Linked DNA regions of Homo sapiens. The protein of the gene in region 2 purifies or fractionates together with the protein of the main gene of each other region. This does not show direct contact. Each region holds a gene or a part of one and is shown on either strand. Other genes may lie near its edges. The genes, in order: CAD, PTPN23, CLINT1 and SH2D4A.

Region 1 (4,055 bases), on a different chromosome or scaffold from region 2:
ATATTTATATGGGTGTTACCTTGTTTTCTAGCTCCCTAAGTCAGAAATAAACATCATGAAGACAGGAACCTCATCTTTTTTTGCTCATTGCTCTTTTCTCAGCATCTTTTGCAATGCCTGCACCTCAATAAATGTCTGACTGACACCATGTGCCTTGCTCTTGAGTTCTCTGTTTCGTGACAAAGACACAAATACATATTCATCATATGACGTAAATAGCAAGAGAGGAAATAAAGTATTAAAACAGCTCTAAGATGGAGGCACAAGCTGTATTGGGTGAGTGGGAGGGGCTTCACAGAGAAAGGATTTGTGATTTCAGTTTTAGATAAAGGAAGAAAGAGGCGGGGCGCGGTAGCTCATGACTTGTAATCCCAGCACTTTGGAAGGCTGAGGTGGGGGGATCGCTTGAGCCCAGGAAGTTTGAGAGCAGCCTGGCAACATGGTGAGACGCTGTCACTACAAAAAATTCAAAAAATTAGCCAGGTGTGATGATCCACACCTGTGGTCCCAACTACTCAGGAGTCTGAGGTGGGAGAATCACTTGAGCCCAGGAGATTGAGGCTGTAGTGAACCGTGTATTTGTGCCACTGTACTCTGCACTCCAGCCTGGATAACAGCAAGACCCTGTCTCAAAAAAAAAAAAAAGGAATGGCTAGGTGCGATGGCTCACTCCTGTAATCCCAGCACTTTGGGAGGCTGAGGTGGGCAGATCACAAGGTCAGGAGATCTGAGACCATCCTGGCTAACATGGTGAAACCCCGTCTCTACTAAAAATACAAAAAATTAGCCGGGTGTGGTGGCGGGCGCCTGTAGTCCCAGCTACTCGGGAGGCTAAAGCAAGAGAATTGCTTGAATCCGGGAGGCAGAGGTTGCAGTGAGCTTAGATGTCGCCACTGCATTGCAGCCTGGGTGACAGAGTGAGACTCTGTCTCAAAAAAAATAAATAATAAATAAATAAAAAGGAAAATGTCATTTTCAGTGATCATCGGGGCACCCTGGGCCTGTGGGTTGTGTTTCGTATAGGAGAGAGCGTTGTTGGTAAATGGAAATACCTATGCAAAAGCACCAAAAGTTTGGTATATTGAAGGCCATTCAATGTGGCTGAATATAGGGTCTGTGGCCACACAATCGGGAAAATGCTGCAAAGAAATAACTTGGCCTGAGGCTTCTCACAATCTCTTTCCATCTACAGTGGTTTGAATCCTCGGGCATCCACGTAGCAGCACTGGTAGTGGGAGAGTGCTGTCCTACTCCCAGCCACTGGAGTGCCACCCGCACCCTGCATGAGTGGCTGCAGCAGCATGGCATCCCTGGCTTGCAAGGTATGGTGGCAAGCAGGGGCATATTTGGGCAGAGCACAGCATGCCTGGATGGAAAGAATCAAGGTTTCTGTAATCTGCTGGGACCTGACTCTAAGATTGTGATAGTTGGAAGGTTTAGATTGGAGTTGGGCTGGGAGAAAGAATTGAACTATCACTCAGAAAGAAAATTTCCAACACAGGAAGGAACTCCCACCTTCCATAATCATCAGCTTAGGGCTAATCTTATTTCATCACCACCACTGGATTATTTTGATGCAAATCTCAGACATCATATCATTTCATCTACAAATAGTTCAATATCTATGCAAAAGGAATCTTTAAAAAACATGATCATAATAACGTCATACACTAAAAAAATTAATAATTCCCTAATACAAGTGTCCAGGCAATGTTTAAAATTTCCCAATTTTTTTTTTTTTTTTTTTTTTTTTTTCTGTTCATTTGAATCTTGCTCTAAACAGGGTTCACACATTGCATTTGGTTGATAAGTCTCTTAATCTGTGGACCTTGTAACCTATTTGAAAACAGGTCATTTTTCCTGTATCTAGTATCCCATAGTCTGCACTTACTTGGTTACACTCCTGTAGTGTTACTTAGCGTATTCTTTTTTTCCCTTTATATTATTTTCTATAAATGGATAGATTTAGAGTTGTTCAATTCAGATGTGATATTTTTGGCAGGAATACTTCATGGTAGTATACTTCTGTCACAATGGCCCAGGATTTTGATGCACATAGAACAGCTGTGTGTGACTGGGGCTCTGGAATGGAAGTGCTTCTGGAAGTCTAACCTCACAGATGACTGAGTTGTAGGAATGTGATCCCTAAGACTGTGCTATTTTGACAGGAGTAGACACTCGGGAGCTGACCAAGAAGTTGCGGGAACAGGGGTCTCTGCTGGGGAAGCTGGTCCAGAATGGAACAGAACCTTCATCCCTGCCATTCTTGGACCCCAATGCCCGCCCCCTGGTACCAGAGGTCTCCATTAAGGTACAGAGGTAGAGTGGGAGAGTGTTGCAAGCTCTAGCACAGTAGTTATATTCTGCCCACAATTGGGGGGTGAACACAGGAGAGAATCAAAGGAGGCTTTGAAGGTAGGAGTTGGTGCAGGCATATCTTATACCCACTGAGCACAGCTGCCAACTGTTGCCCTTTATTCGTCTATTTCTCAGACTCCACGGGTATTCAATACAGGGGGTGCCCCTCGGATCCTTGCTTTGGACTGTGGCCTCAAGTATAATCAGATCCGATGCCTCTGCCAGCGTGGGGCTGAGGTCACTGTGGTACCCTGGGACCATGCACTAGACAGCCAAGGTGAGTAGCTGGGGCCTGTTCAGGGCCTCAGACAAGCAGCTTGGGTGGAAGATCTATCCCTTGGTCCAATTGCTAAAAGTCAGTAGGAGTTGCAGTGAAGAAGATAGACATTGGGACTTAACACTCTCATGGGCTGGGGGGGCTGCAGGTGTGTCTCCTGTAATTGAAATACTGATTTTGATGTCATCTTTTCTGCCCACTCCAGAGTATGAGGGTCTCTTCTTAAGTAATGGGCCTGGTGACCCTGCCTCCTATCCCAGTGTCGTATCCACACTGAGCCGTGTTTTATCTGAGCCTAATCCCCGACCTGTCTTTGGGATCTGCCTGGGACACCAGCTATTGGCCTTAGCCATTGGGGCCAAGACTTACAAGATGAGGTGGGACTTGTGGGGAGCAGAAGGGGCCCATACTTGTGGCATGAGGGGTGGGGTGTCTCAGGAATGAGAAGAGAGTTGGTGTTTATTCGTGTTGAAATAGGAGCGGGGGGGTTGCAGGTGAGGTGGCTCCCACCTGTAATCCCAGCACTTTGGGAGGCCAAGGTGGGCGGATCACTGGAGGTCAGGAGTTCGAGACCAGCCTGGCCAACATGGTGAAACTCTGTCTCTACTAAAAATACAAAAGTTGGCCAGCCATGGTGGCGTGCGCCTGTAATCCCAGCTACTCCAGAGGCTGAGGCAGGAGAATCGCTTGAACCTGGGAGGTGGAGGTTGCAGTGAGCGGAGATCGTGCCATTGCCCTCCAGCCCGGGAAACAGAGGGAGACTCCGTCTCAAAAAAAAAAAAAAAACAAAAAGGAAACAGGAGTGAGGCTACTGAGAACAGGAGATCGGTGAGAGCTGGGGTAGGTTCAGTAGTGAAGAGAGGGTGAGCAGGGCCTGTGACTCGGCATGCTTCTACCTCCAGATATGGGAACCGAGGCCATAACCAGCCCTGCTTGTTGGTGGGCTCTGGGCGCTGCTTTCTGACATCCCAGAACCATGGGTTTGCTGTGGAGACAGACTCACTGCCAGCAGACTGGGCTCCTCTCTTCACCAACGCCAATGATGGTTCCAATGAAGGCATTGTGCACAACAGCTTGCCTTTCTTCAGGTGAGCCTGGTTGACTGGGTCTGTGAAAATTTGAAGCCCTGTGGGCCTTGATGATGGAAAAGTAAAGCACGGCAGTGGATCCGAGTCCCCTGTCCCACTACCCACCTCGAGGCTGCCAGTGTCATGCCAGGGACCATGATGGTTTTCATGATGCAATCTCTTCAATAGTGTCCAGTTTCACCCAGAGCACCAAGCTGGCCCTTCAGATATGGAACTGCTTTTCGATATCTTTCTGGAAACTGTGAAAGAGGCCACAGCTGGGAACCCTGGGGGCCAGACAGGTAAGATCCTGAGTAGAACTGGGTTGTGGACCTAAGAACAGGGTTGGCTCC
Region 2 (4,055 bases):
CATTCAGAAAAGATGTGGGAACGAGGCCTTGAGTATTATTGTAGGGATTAGACAAGGGGAGGATGAAGGTATGTTTTTATCCCCAGTACTCTTGGCCTATGGCGGTTTTCTTTCAGGCTTGCTGACATGGACCAAGGAGCTGAAGATTTCACTTGGCAATACGCCATTCTCTGAATATAATTAGTCTCATTTGAAATTTAGTAGCTGAACATATACTGTATTAATTAACAATACTGGTCAGGCACGTTGGCTCATGCCTGTCATCCCAGCACTTTGGGAGGCCAAGGCAGGAGGATCAGTCAAGACCAGGAGTTTGAGACTAACCTGGGCAACAAAGCAAGACCCTGTCTCTACAAAAAAAAAAAAAAAAAAAGAAAGGTCAGGCGTGGTGTGGTGGCACACACCTGTAGTCCCTGCTACTCAGGAGGCTGAGGTGGGGGGTATGGCTTAAGCCCAGGAGGTCGAGGCTGTGGTGAACCAAGATCTCGCCACTCCAGCCTGGGTGTCAGAGACCCTGTCTCAAAAAAAAAAAAAAAAAGTTTGTTTCTTAGAGTAGCCCAAGGAATGCCCTACATTTGAGTCAACTCTGGAACTGGAGAAAAAAGAAACATAATGTAACTGGTGAATAAAGGTAAAACTAACACATGTGATGCCTTTTAATTGCCTTTTCTTCTTGTCTTATTGCTTTAATTAGCATGATGAAATTCCAAATGTTAAATTAAGAGCAAAGCATACATAGAAGAATGAGAACATACTAGTACAAGAGAAGGTGACACAGAGGGATTAATATTAGGTCTGGAGTCAGGAAATCTGTCTTGGGGTCCTAGCACTATCATTGCTTATCTGTGGTTTGCCCTTTCTCTAATCTGCAAAATCATGGCAGGACCAGGATGGTTGTTTCCAGTGATCTCACCTAGCTACAAAATTCTCTACTGTTTGGTGCTCAGTAAAATAGCAGAGTAGCATCATGGAAATAGCATAGCTATTGGAATCAGACCTTGGTTTAGGTCCCCTCTCATTCCTTTAATAGCTGAATGATCTTGAGCTGTCACAAAGATTACATAACTAATGTAGTCCTCACTTTTCTTACCTGAAACATGGAACTAATAATATACCTCATAAGCTTCTGAGAATCAAAATTAATGCTTCTAAGTTCTTTTTTATTTTTATTTTTTTAGAGATGGGGTCTTGCTGTAACACCCAGGCTGGAGTGCAAAGGCACGATCTTGGCACACTGCAGCCTCTGCCTCCAGGTCTCAAGTGGTCCGTCCACCTCATCCTCCTGAATAGCTGGGACCACAGGCACGCACCACTCTGCTAATTTTGCTTATTTTTTTTTAGAGATAAGGTCTCACTGTGTTGCGCAGGCTGGTCTCAAACACCTGGGCTTAAGTAGGTATATAAGTATATACACCTACTATGTACCCACAAAAATTAATGGGGTACTTGATATGGCCAAACAGGTATAGTAATCACATCAGGGTAAATGGAGTATCCATTACCACAAGCATTTATCCTTTCTTTGTGTTACAGACAATCCAATTATACTTTTATTTTTAAATGTAATAAATTATTGCTGACTATAGTTACCCTGTTTTGCTGTCACTACTAGATCTTTTTTTTTTTTTTTTTTGAGACAGAGTTTCGCCTTGTCACGCAGGCTAGAGTACAGTGGCACAATCTCGGCTCACCACAACCTCCGCCTCCCGTGTTCAAGCGTTTCTACTGCCTCAGCCTCCCGAGTAGCTGGGATTACAGGCACCTGCCATCATGTCCAGCTAATTTTTGTCTTTTTAGTAGAGTCTGGGTTTTGCCATGTTGGACAGGGTGGTCTCGAACTCCTGACCTCAGATGATCCACCCGCCTTGGCCTCCCAAAGTGCTGCGATTGCAGGTGTGAGCCACCACGCCCAGCCTCAAATACTAGATTGTATTCATTCTATCTAACTATATTTTTGTACTCATTAACCATTCCCACTCCACTCCCCCACCCCACTCCCACTACCCTTCCCAGCCTCTGGTATTCATCATTCTACTGTCGGTTTCCATGAATTCAGTGGTTTTAATTTTTAGCTCCCACAAAAAAGTGAGAACATGCAGAGTTTGTCGTTCTAATGCTTGTTAAGTTCTTAGTACAGGTCTTGGCCTATTGTAAACAATATTTTCACCTGAGCATCTTCCTTCCCTGTTTGGGAAATAACTCGAATCCTTATGACAGCTCTGAGCTAGACGTAGCAAGTGATATTAACCCCATTTTACACATGAAAAAAGCCAAGCCTAGGCTGGGCATGGTGACTCATGCCTGTAATCCCAGCGCTTTGGGATGCCGAGGTGGGAGGATAGCTGGAGGCCAGGAGTTCGAGACCAGCCTGGGCACCATAGCAAGACCCCTGTCTCTACAAAATAAAAATAAAAATTAGCTGGGGCCAGGCATGGTAGCTCACGCCTGTAATCCCAGCACTTTGGGAGGCCAAGGCGGGTGGATCACGAAGTCAAGGGTTCGGGACCAGGGCCTGGCGCAGTGGCTCACGCCTGTAATCCCCGCACTTTGGGAGGCCGAGGCGGGTGGATCACGAGATCAGGAGATCAAGACCATCCTGGCTAACACGGTGAATCCCCGTCTCCACTAAAAATACAAACAATTAGCCAGGCGTGGTGGCGGGTGCCTGTAGTCCCAGCTGCTCAGGAGGCTGAGGCAGGAGAATGGCGTGAACCCGGGGGGGTGGAGCTTGCAGTGAGCTGAGATGGCACCACTGCACTCCAGCCTGGGTAACAGAGCGAGACTCCGTCTCAAAAAAAAAAAAAAAAAAAAAAAGGAGTTCGAGATCAGCCTAGCCAACATGGCAAAACCCCATCTCTACTAAAAATACAAAAATTAGCTGGGTATGGCTGCATGCACCTGTAGTCCCAGCTACTTGGGAGGCTTAGGCAGGAGAATTGCTTGAACCCAGGAGGTGGAGGTTGCAGTAAGCCGAGATGGCGCCATTGCACTCCAGCCTGGGTAACAGAGCGAGACTCCGTCTCAAAAAAAAAAAAAAAAAAAAATAGCTGGGCATGGTGGCACACAGCTGTAGTCCTAGCCACACAAGAGGCTGAGGTGGGAGGATCACTTGGAGTTTGAAGCTTCATTGAGCTATGATAGTACCACTGCACTCCAGCCTGCCTGACAGAGCAAGACAATTTAAAAAAACAAAAAACAAAAACCAAGCCCAGATTTCACAGCAACTCAGGGGCACTGTTTCCCACTTGTAATCTGGTAACTCCTTTCTTTTCTTTTTCCCCTCGGTGGCTGTGATCCCTGGACGTGCCCTCACTGAGAGCTCTCCACGGGTCTTCTTTTATTCCTTCAGAAAAGGATCCCCAGCTACTTCAAAGCCTGGCTGTTTTTGGAGGTTCTCTGGTCTTCTTCCTGTTAGTTGTGTAGGTACTGGGGTCCTGTCAGGGCCTCTGGTTCTTTCTCCTCGTCTGCTGCTGGGCCTGCCTTCTCAGCCTCCATTGGAGCTTCATACTTCCCGCTAGACTGTTCCGAGTTCTGCAGAGTCCCAGACCATAGCGAAATGGGGACAAGGTCTCTGTCCCTTACTCCAGGAACTTCACCCAGCCTCTTTCTTCTTTTTTAGTGGAGGAGTGATCAGCAGTCACAGAGGATTTTGTTAGGGTTTTAAAAACATCCTTTTGCTTCTAACAGGCTGCAAATAATAATAATAACATAAATATCCTGGCTGCTCCACTGACTCACTGTGTGGCCAGGGATTCATTTTCTGTGCCTGTTTTTCAGAGTTGTTTGTAAGAACCATATTTTTAAAAAATAGAAATGCTCTGGGAGGCTGATGTGGGTCAACTGCTTGAGCCCAGGAGTTTAAGACCAGACTGGGCAACATAGTGAGACTCCCATCTCTATAAAATAAAAAAAAGTTTGGGCGTGATGGCTCATGTCTGTAATCCCAACACTTTGGGAGTCTGAGGCAGAAGGATTGCTTGAGGCTAGAAGTTCCAGACCAGCCTGGGCAATATAGCAAGACACTACCTCTACAGAAAATTAGCTGAGTATGGTGG
Region 3 (4,055 bases), on a different chromosome or scaffold from region 2:
CAGAAAATTTTAGCCTTGCAATTTTAGGAGGCAATTCAGCAAAATCGTTTTGTTCAATCTCCAAAGGCTATGTATCCTTTTAGATCCTGTAAACAAAAGTTCAAAACAAAAGCTCCATTAGCCACTTTTTAGTTATTTTGTTGTTTCTCATTGTCCTTTTCATTTTCTTCCAACCTGCCTTAATTTTTAATGTTTTCTTTTTTAAAAATACCTCACGTGCTCTCTGTACCTTCTACTGTTGCTTCTTAAGTTGGATTTGGACATGGAAATGGAAGGGTTTCATTTTGTGTCTGTAATTCCTATGTCTCCTTTGGGTCCCTAGGGGCAAGGACTAAAACAAATCTTGACATTTTGGGTTTTTTGTTTACTGCCACGATCTATTCTCTGCATTCCCAAATTCACACAGAGGCTCTAGGTTTCGCCAGTCTCAGCATATGTTTGGAATGGGTGTTTGAATTGGTTGACACTGTTCTGAACTACTGTTTGAGCATACTTCCTGATTCTAGTATGTGTAGTTTTTGGTAGTTAGAGTAATCCTTTCTTTGTACAGTAATTACGGAATGCTTTCCCATCCCCTGAAAATTCATTGAATTATTTTTTTAGTTTGATACTGAGGCGTGACAGTTATTGAGACTTTTTAGCTTATTGGGACATGTAGCATTCAGATTGGAGTTCCTTCAGTTGTATTTTTTAAGATACTGTTGCTATCCAATGCTTTTCTGAAAATTGGGAAACCATTAAGGGACAGGAATAAAATATAACATATTAAGTGTCTTTTGTGAAAACAGAAAGATTTTCATTTCTCTTTTGCTTATATAGCTTGTGTTGGTTTTGTGTTTTCCACTACTCCTTTCAGTAGCCTTTAAGAATTTCCTGATATGCTGTGCTGTGCATTAAGGTTGTGTAAGTATTCATAAACAAAAGCTTTTGAATCTGCATTCCTGCCACTTAATGACTGGCATTACATGCTATGCCTTGCTGTAATTGTGTTGATTCAGCACTGTGGGAGCTTTCTGTTTTCCTTTGAAAATGATTTTATTATGAGGAAAAGCCTGAGAAATAAGGACTTGTAGATACCTTTTGAATTTAATGTCGTTAGAATTGCTTCTTTTTTTAATGCTCTATCTAGGTGAAAGATATGATCCTGAGCCCAAATCAAAATGGGATGAGGAGTGGGATAAAAACAAGAGTGCTTTTCCATTCAGTGATAAATTAGGTGAGCTGAGTGATAAAATTGGAAGCACAATTGATGACACCATCAGCAAGTTCCGGAGGAAAGATAGAGAAGACTCTCCAGAAAGATGCAGGTATTTTACCACTTTGTCTCCCGGGTCTCTTAGAAAGAGCCCTAAATTTATGCCACTGGGTTTTTGGTTTTTTGTTGGTTTTGTTTGGGGTATTAACATTATCTGAAATTGGGCCTTTTTTTTTTTTTTTAATAGACTTCATTTGTTTTTAGAGCAATTTAAGCTCACAGAAAAATTGTGCATAAAGTACAGAGTTGTCATATACCCACTTCCCCTTCATAACAGGTTCTGTGAACATCTTGCATTACTATGGTGCATTTGTTAACAATTGAAAAGCCAGTATGGATACACTTATTAACTAAAGTCTGTAGTTTACGTTGGGGTTTCCTATATTGTACACTTCTATGGGTTTCGACAAATGCATAATATTCCTCATTACTGTATTGTATAGAATAGTTTCACTGCCATAAATATGCCCTGTGCAGAAATGTGGAACAAGTCTTAAATGTGCAAGTTATCCTTGCACAGGGGGCATGCTAATCTTCCCTGTATTGTTCTGGTTTTAGTACATATGCTGCTGAAGCAAGCACTGTGCAACTATTTTTAAGATACTAGGTTATACACTACTTGCAATTAGTATTGACATACTTTCCATGTTGCCTCTGTCTACTTATTTTTGAAGTTGATCCTGTGTATTTTTATTCAAGCTAGTAGTCTTTCCTTGGATTTTTTTCCCCAGTAAAAACTTGTATAGATTATTTTGCATTTGGACCTTAGATGATCCAGGGACCTAAGATACTGAGGGATAATGAAGTTTATATATTAAGTTTAATTAAACATAAGTCAAAGGATTTGAAATTTAATGCTTCCTTGACATTTCATTATGATTCTGTGCCAGTGTGTACCAGAAAAACAATCCAAATGGATTTTGAACCAGTTTTTGAGAATAGAGCTGTATTTTTATAAACTACATTTTCTGATGGTATTTAGTTTTACATGGAACAATACTTTGAGCTTTGCAGCAGTCACTTTTGTTCTTACTTACCAATATTATTATAAACCAATTTTTCTGAGAATGTAAAGGGTAATGCATATAGCACTTAATTTACAGAGCAAATTTTACTTTTTAAATTTGACCTTTATCATTTGTGCCTCACAATATCTCTACTAGAGTAGAATAAGAATTTTGTCTTTGTTGTTTATAAGTAAAACCTAAAACCCAGTCACACTGTGTGGACTTGCCTAAATAACACAGTTAGTGATGGAACCAAGCCTTCAAGTGAGTTCTCGTAACTAAATGCCATCTCTTTTTCTTTACCCTGCGCCAAAAATCCTAATAGTTCAGAATTAGGGATCATTAAAAAGAGGTCCAAACAAAAATACAATCTAATTAGTGTATTTTTAGGATGTTTTCATATCTTTTAAATCCCTGGAATGCCTGTTCAGGAAATACCAACAGAATAATGGCCATAATTTCAATAATGTTTTCCAAACCAAGCCAAAACTTACACAGGCCACAAAAACATTAATGAGGGAAACAGCTCTGTATATTTGAAGTGGGCACCATTTCCCTCCCAATGTTTAGTATTTATAATTATCATATGCATCCTTTTTCAGTATAAAAAAGCTAGATATATACTTGTAAAATAGATTTATTCAAAGTGCTAAAAATAAGTTCTAGCTCTTCAAAGATCACATTCCAGTTTTTCAAACAGTCTTGAAAAAGAGACATTTCAGGGCAGGCTCAGTTCCACCACTAACTGTGTTACTTTAGGCAGATCCACACAGTCTGGTTGGGTCTTAGGTTTTACTTATAAACAATAACGCTATGTAGGCTGGTTAGATATCTGTGTGTGTTCTGTATTGTTACTTTCTCTCCTTTGCCCTTCTATCCTTAGTTTTTCTTTTCTTTGTCTCTCTACTCTTCTTTTATTTCTGTTTCTCCCATGATTTTTATTTTTTATGTTGCCTCTAAGACAGGATCTCCTAGAGTTTCTAAATCTTTAAGGAGTATTTAGGTTTAAAAGAGTGAAAATGCAGTGAACATGATTTATCGTGATAATGATAGGGCACACCAGGAACTTTTTATCTTAAAGTATTTGTGAGAGAAGAGTAGATTTTTTGACAGAGTTGCATATGACCTCAATCCTGATGGCATGTTACCTGAATTTCATACTTATTAGTTCACTATTACATTCAGGAATTCTTGAACATTGATCAGATATGGAGCTTCCATTTCATCGTGTGCTAGTCAGATTTATATTTTCAACTTGTGAATAAATTATTTTGCGCTGAAATAAAATTGGACACCAAAAAAGTAAGAAATTTCAGTTTTACTTGTAGGACTAATGGGAATCTTCAGGTCATTTGTTGTTGAGAAGTTAGTAAGGGCTTTTGAATGCGTATCAGAACTTGTAGGTTCCTTAAAATGTTTATATATAAAAATATATTTAACCCCTTTGCTCTGTGTGGGAAGTCATTCTTTTTGATCTTTGATTTATACAAGTTCCAGATTGGTTTATATTTAAGTACAAGTTGCTATAGTTCAGTCTGAGGTAAATTGCATCAGCAGTTTAAAGGAGAATTTTAAACATTATATTCCAGAATATTTATAAATTAAACCACCTACTCTAAAATTAAGTAATACAGGTAATGGAACATGTTTCAAGTAACATTTCTCTCTTTCTCTCTCTTTCGCTCTCTCTCTCTCTCTCTCTCTCTCTCCTACTTACATCAGAAAAAAACCCAATGACTTGTTACTAGAGAACAGACTAGGGCTGATATTTTCATTCCTAGCATATGAAAAAC
Region 4 (4,055 bases), on a different chromosome or scaffold from region 2:
CTGTGCTTTTTGTGCTGTTCTTAGTGTTTGTTTGGAAGGGGAAATTGTAGAGACGAAGTGGATGACTAAGTGCAAGGGGAAATGGGACTAAGTGTCTGGTGAATACGTGGGTAAGCAATGTCCACACCTGGGTCAGTGTGACAGTCGGTTCCTTGCTGTCCTTCCTGGCTGGGGTGTGTGCACCTGGCCTCCCCTAAGCTTAGCTACAGTTGACCAGGAGGAGGCTTCTGCCCTGTGTCAAGCACCATCAGTTCAGCGTTTCTGTTGCTGCAGGAATTTGCTGGCTTCCATTCTGAAATTTCATACATGGCACCACATCCTGCTGTTCTGATTCTGGGCACACAAATAAACTCACAAAAAGGCCTCTGTGTTGTGTATTACAGTGAAGCTGAGTTAGAGCTGGACTGCCCGGCTCTGCCGCTTACCAGCTGCTGACCTGTGCTCTATCTTCCTAATCTGTGAGATGGGCATAGTGATGGGCTGGACTCCAAGGGTTATTGTGAAGATTAAGTGAGTTAACACATGTAGAGTGCTTAATTAAGATGGTGCCTGGTACAAGAAGTGTTAGCTGTGTTATCAGGAATATGCAGGGCGGGGGAGACTGGAGGAATATGACTTTGACACTTTAAGGGTTTTAGATTCTAGGATCTACCCATGCCTTGAATAGGATTCGCTGCATTCAAAATGGGGAACACAGCAGAAGTCTCAACCCCAGCTGAACTGTTCATCTTCTGCCGTGTGTGATTTCTGCGAAAACCAACCATTGAACTTAAGGACATTTACTGGAATGTCAAGGAGTCATTCTGTCTCCTTTCTTACCACTTTATCTTGGAGCTTGTGGATTTCATTGGCTCCACCCTTTGAGAAGCTGCTAGAAACAAAAAGTCAAAAGTCAAGAAATCTTGACAAGACATCCATTTTTTTTTTTTTTTTTTTTTTTGGCTGTTCAAGCCTTTAAGGGTATCTCAATGCAAAATACAAAGTTGGCAAGTGGATCTGGGAAGGGCGTGATATTACTTTTAGTCCTTTAAAATTTTTCTCTTAATGTTTGGTTCCATTTGGATTCTGGTAGTTGAATGCTGCCGAGATGATAGGTTGCAGTCAGTAGGGATAGGTGTAGTTTCATCAAGGGCCTGGCTTCACAATGAACAGTCAGCGAATCTAAGAGCTGAGTATGCACACCACTCTGTGGTAGCCTAGCTGTTGAGCGTGCTTGTCTCAAAAGACAGGTGTAAATCAAGGAACTACTTTGCACGGAAGAGGAGGAAGACGGGAAGCTGAAGGAGGCCCCCAGATGGTGAGAGGGGCATTACAAATCTAACTGTATCAATGACAAGGTGAACGAAGAGAAACCAACAACACTACGATGGTCATAATATAGCTAAGTGACTTGTCTGAAGTTTAAGACTGTTTGAACATAGTATGGAGAAACAACGTATTTGAGAGCACATGGCAAGGTGGTAAGATTATTGAGGTGTTATTATAAATAACAAATTATTGGTCAATTTCTTTTTTTTTTCTTTTTTTATTTTTGAGACAGAGTCTCCCTCTGTTGCCCAGGCTGGAGTGTAGTGGCGCGATCTCGGCTCACTGCAACCTCTGCGTCCTAGGTTCAAGCGATCTCCTGTCTCAGCCTCTTGAGTAGCTGGGATTACAGGCACCCACCACCATGCCCAGCTAATTTCTGTATTTTTTGTTTTTTTAGTAGAGATGTTGGTCATACTGGTCAGACTGGTCTCGAACTCCTGACCTCGTGATCCCCCCTCTTTGGCCTCCCAAAGTGCTGGGATTACAGGCGTGAGCCACCCCGCCTGGCCTATTGGTCAATTTCTTAGGACACATGTGATTCTGAAAAGTTGTAGTAAGTTTTTTTTCTTATATCTTATTACATCGAATCCAAAGTCTTTTGTTTTCCAGAATAGATATATTTACATAGTTTCCTGCTGATTACAAAAGTATGATGGTTTATGGGACTTAGAAATTGTTTAAAAATAGAGAGAGAAAGTATGACAGTGTGGTAATATTTTTAAGCCAATATTTTAAAATAGAAATGTGGAAAGTAGAATGAAACCTCAGTAGGATTTCCAACCACAGGAGAACTTCTAGGAGGCCACTGTGCACTCTCGCTTTATGGTTTCTCTTTCAAGGAGCCATGCGGTAAAGTCATATAAATGAAGGATCCTTTGTTATGAACCTAATGACCTCTTCATCCCCCTAGTTTATCTGGTCTGTCCATTTAGATTTTATTAAACTAGGTTATCTGGAAAAAGCACACCTAAAACTCGGTGACCTTCCAGAATGTAGATGGATGTTCTCTCTTGCACCTGCCCTGATTTTCATGGCTCTAGTAGGTTATCTGGAAATTACATTATCCTTTTGTGAAGAGGAAAGTACATAATTTTGTTTATTTAATGCTACTTTTTAGGGAAATTGCAGAAAATGCATGGTGGTCTAGTTTTTATTTCTTCCTTTTTCTTCCTTGAGCATGGCTCTATTTTGGTTTGGTTTGGGATGAGTTACTCTGTGACATATCAAAAGTGGTATTTTCTTTTGAAATAGGTACTTTGCAGAGAGCCTTTTAATTTCTTCCTGTGACTTTTTTTTTTCTTTCTTTTTTCAGCCACACAGTTGGTGGTTTGTTAGGCTCTGGGGTAATAATGTGTTTGCTTAGTTGGGAGCTGGACAAACCTCTGTGAACTTTTTTTGTTTGCCTGAGATTGACCTGTATAAAGTTAGGGTTTGTTTTCTTTTTTTTTTTGACAGAGTATCTTTAGAAATTACAGGATAGAGGTTATACAAACTCTTAACAAAGTGTGCCTCAGATTTTCTTCTTCTCTTTTCTCTCTGAACTGAAAAGTGATACTGTGTTTCCTCCTAGCTTTTTTTTTTAAACCCGTCCTAGCCAGTGTCCACACATTTTAACACGCTGCCTGAATGTGGGCTCTTTCTCTCTGCAGGTTCAGTGAACAGCATTTTGGACAGGACATTTGGTGCCAGGTCTGAGTAGCCAGTTTGCTGAATTATTGTCCCAGTCAGCCAGGATTGTGAGCTGTTTGGGAAGTTTCGTGGAAACGCCCAAGTGCCAGCACAGGTGGAGGGACACCTGGAGGCCAGTTTCAGGAACTTTTGCCACAAGTATAAAAGACTTCAGAAGTGCAAAGATGCTGAAACAGATACTGTCGGAGATGTACATAGATCCTGATCTACTGGCAGAGCTCAGCGAAGAACAGAAACAGATCCTGTTCTTCAAGATGAGAGAGGAACAGATCCGACGATGGAAAGAAAGAGAAGCAGCTATGGAAAGAAAGGAGTCCCTGCCAGTGAAACCCAGACCAAAGAAAGGTAAACTTATCCACGTTTCTTCTGTGGATGTGTTGGTAGAACAGCTCCTGGCTTGCTTTGACAATTTCACACTAGTCACAAGCAAAGCAGGTGCAAGTTCCAGTTTGGCAGATGAATCCTAAATGTTATTGAGAATCTAATAGTGCAGTATGTCCACCTGAAGTCTACACACACACACACAGCATTCACCATGGAGTTGCATAGCTATGAGGAAATCTTTTACTTGAAACCAGACTAACCTGAAGCTGTATTAAAAAGTCACCTATGAGGTTTGATTTGAGGGGTATTAAGAAAGGTTTCTATCTCCTTTATTGTTACTGGTTCCTAATATGCTACTACTAGAACACAAAGTTCTTGTGTCAGTATATTTATAGCAATTGTGTTTGCATTTCTTAGACCTCAGAGATTTTTCTTTGAGGTATCTTTTTAGGGAACACCTCCTGTTAAAATGTAAGGAATTGCTATAAGGAAAAAAATCATAATACTATCTTTTTTTAGTGTGAATGAGTTTCTCAGATGTAAACTTTTCCTCGTTATCAAAGGAATCTCTGGTAGTTTGAGAGGGTTCTTTTGAGACCATGGGGGAGGAAATCTTTGTACATTAAGACTTAAAGCAGACAAGGTGCAGTGGCTCATGCCTGTCATTGCAGCACTTTGGGTGGCCGAGGTAGGAGGATCACTTGAGTCCAGGAGTTCTGACCAGCCTGGAAATA

The links.
Region 1: the proteins of PTPN23 (region 2) and CAD purify together in Homo sapiens (affinity purification with mass spectrometry; one large-scale study listed by BioGRID and IntAct). This does not show direct contact.
Region 3: the proteins of PTPN23 (region 2) and CLINT1 purify together in Homo sapiens (affinity purification with mass spectrometry; one large-scale study listed by BioGRID and IntAct). This does not show direct contact.
Region 4: the proteins of PTPN23 (region 2) and SH2D4A purify together in Homo sapiens (co-immunoprecipitation; one large-scale study listed by IntAct). This does not show direct contact.

Annotation. Positions count from the first base shown.
Region 1 is NC_000002.12:27,220,026-27,224,080, forward strand, and holds part of CAD (multifunctional protein CAD), read left to right. Parts: intron 1-1,192; coding exon 1,193-1,322; intron 1,323-2,168; coding exon 2,169-2,311; intron 2,312-2,493; coding exon 2,494-2,635; intron 2,636-2,840; coding exon 2,841-3,012; intron 3,013-3,537; coding exon 3,538-3,723; intron 3,724-3,891; coding exon 3,892-4,004; intron 4,005-4,055. UniProt on the Homo sapiens protein: Multifunctional protein that encodes the first 3 enzymatic activities of the de novo pyrimidine pathway: carbamoylphosphate synthetase (CPSase; EC 6.3.5.5), aspartate transcarbamylase (ATCase; EC 2.1.3.2) and dihydroorotase (DHOase; EC 3.5.2.3).
Region 2 is NC_000003.12:47,387,050-47,391,104, forward strand, and holds part of PTPN23 (tyrosine-protein phosphatase non-receptor type 23), read left to right. Parts: intron 1-4,055. UniProt on the Homo sapiens protein: Plays a role in sorting of endocytic ubiquitinated cargos into multivesicular bodies (MVBs) via its interaction with the ESCRT-I complex (endosomal sorting complex required for transport I), and possibly also other ESCRT complexes.
Region 3 is NC_000005.10:157,806,880-157,810,934, reverse strand, and holds part of CLINT1 (clathrin interactor 1), read left to right. Parts: intron 1-1,129; coding exon 1,130-1,307; intron 1,308-4,055. UniProt on the Homo sapiens protein: Binds to membranes enriched in phosphatidylinositol 4,5-bisphosphate (PtdIns(4,5)P2). May have a role in transport via clathrin-coated vesicles from the trans-Golgi network to endosomes. Stimulates clathrin assembly.
Region 4 is NC_000008.11:19,316,387-19,320,441, forward strand, and holds part of SH2D4A (SH2 domain-containing protein 4A), read left to right. Parts: intron 1-2,957; 5' UTR 2,958-3,161; coding exon 3,162-3,342; intron 3,343-4,055. UniProt on the Homo sapiens protein: Inhibits estrogen-induced cell proliferation by competing with PLCG for binding to ESR1, blocking the effect of estrogen on PLCG and repressing estrogen-induced proliferation. May play a role in T-cell development and function.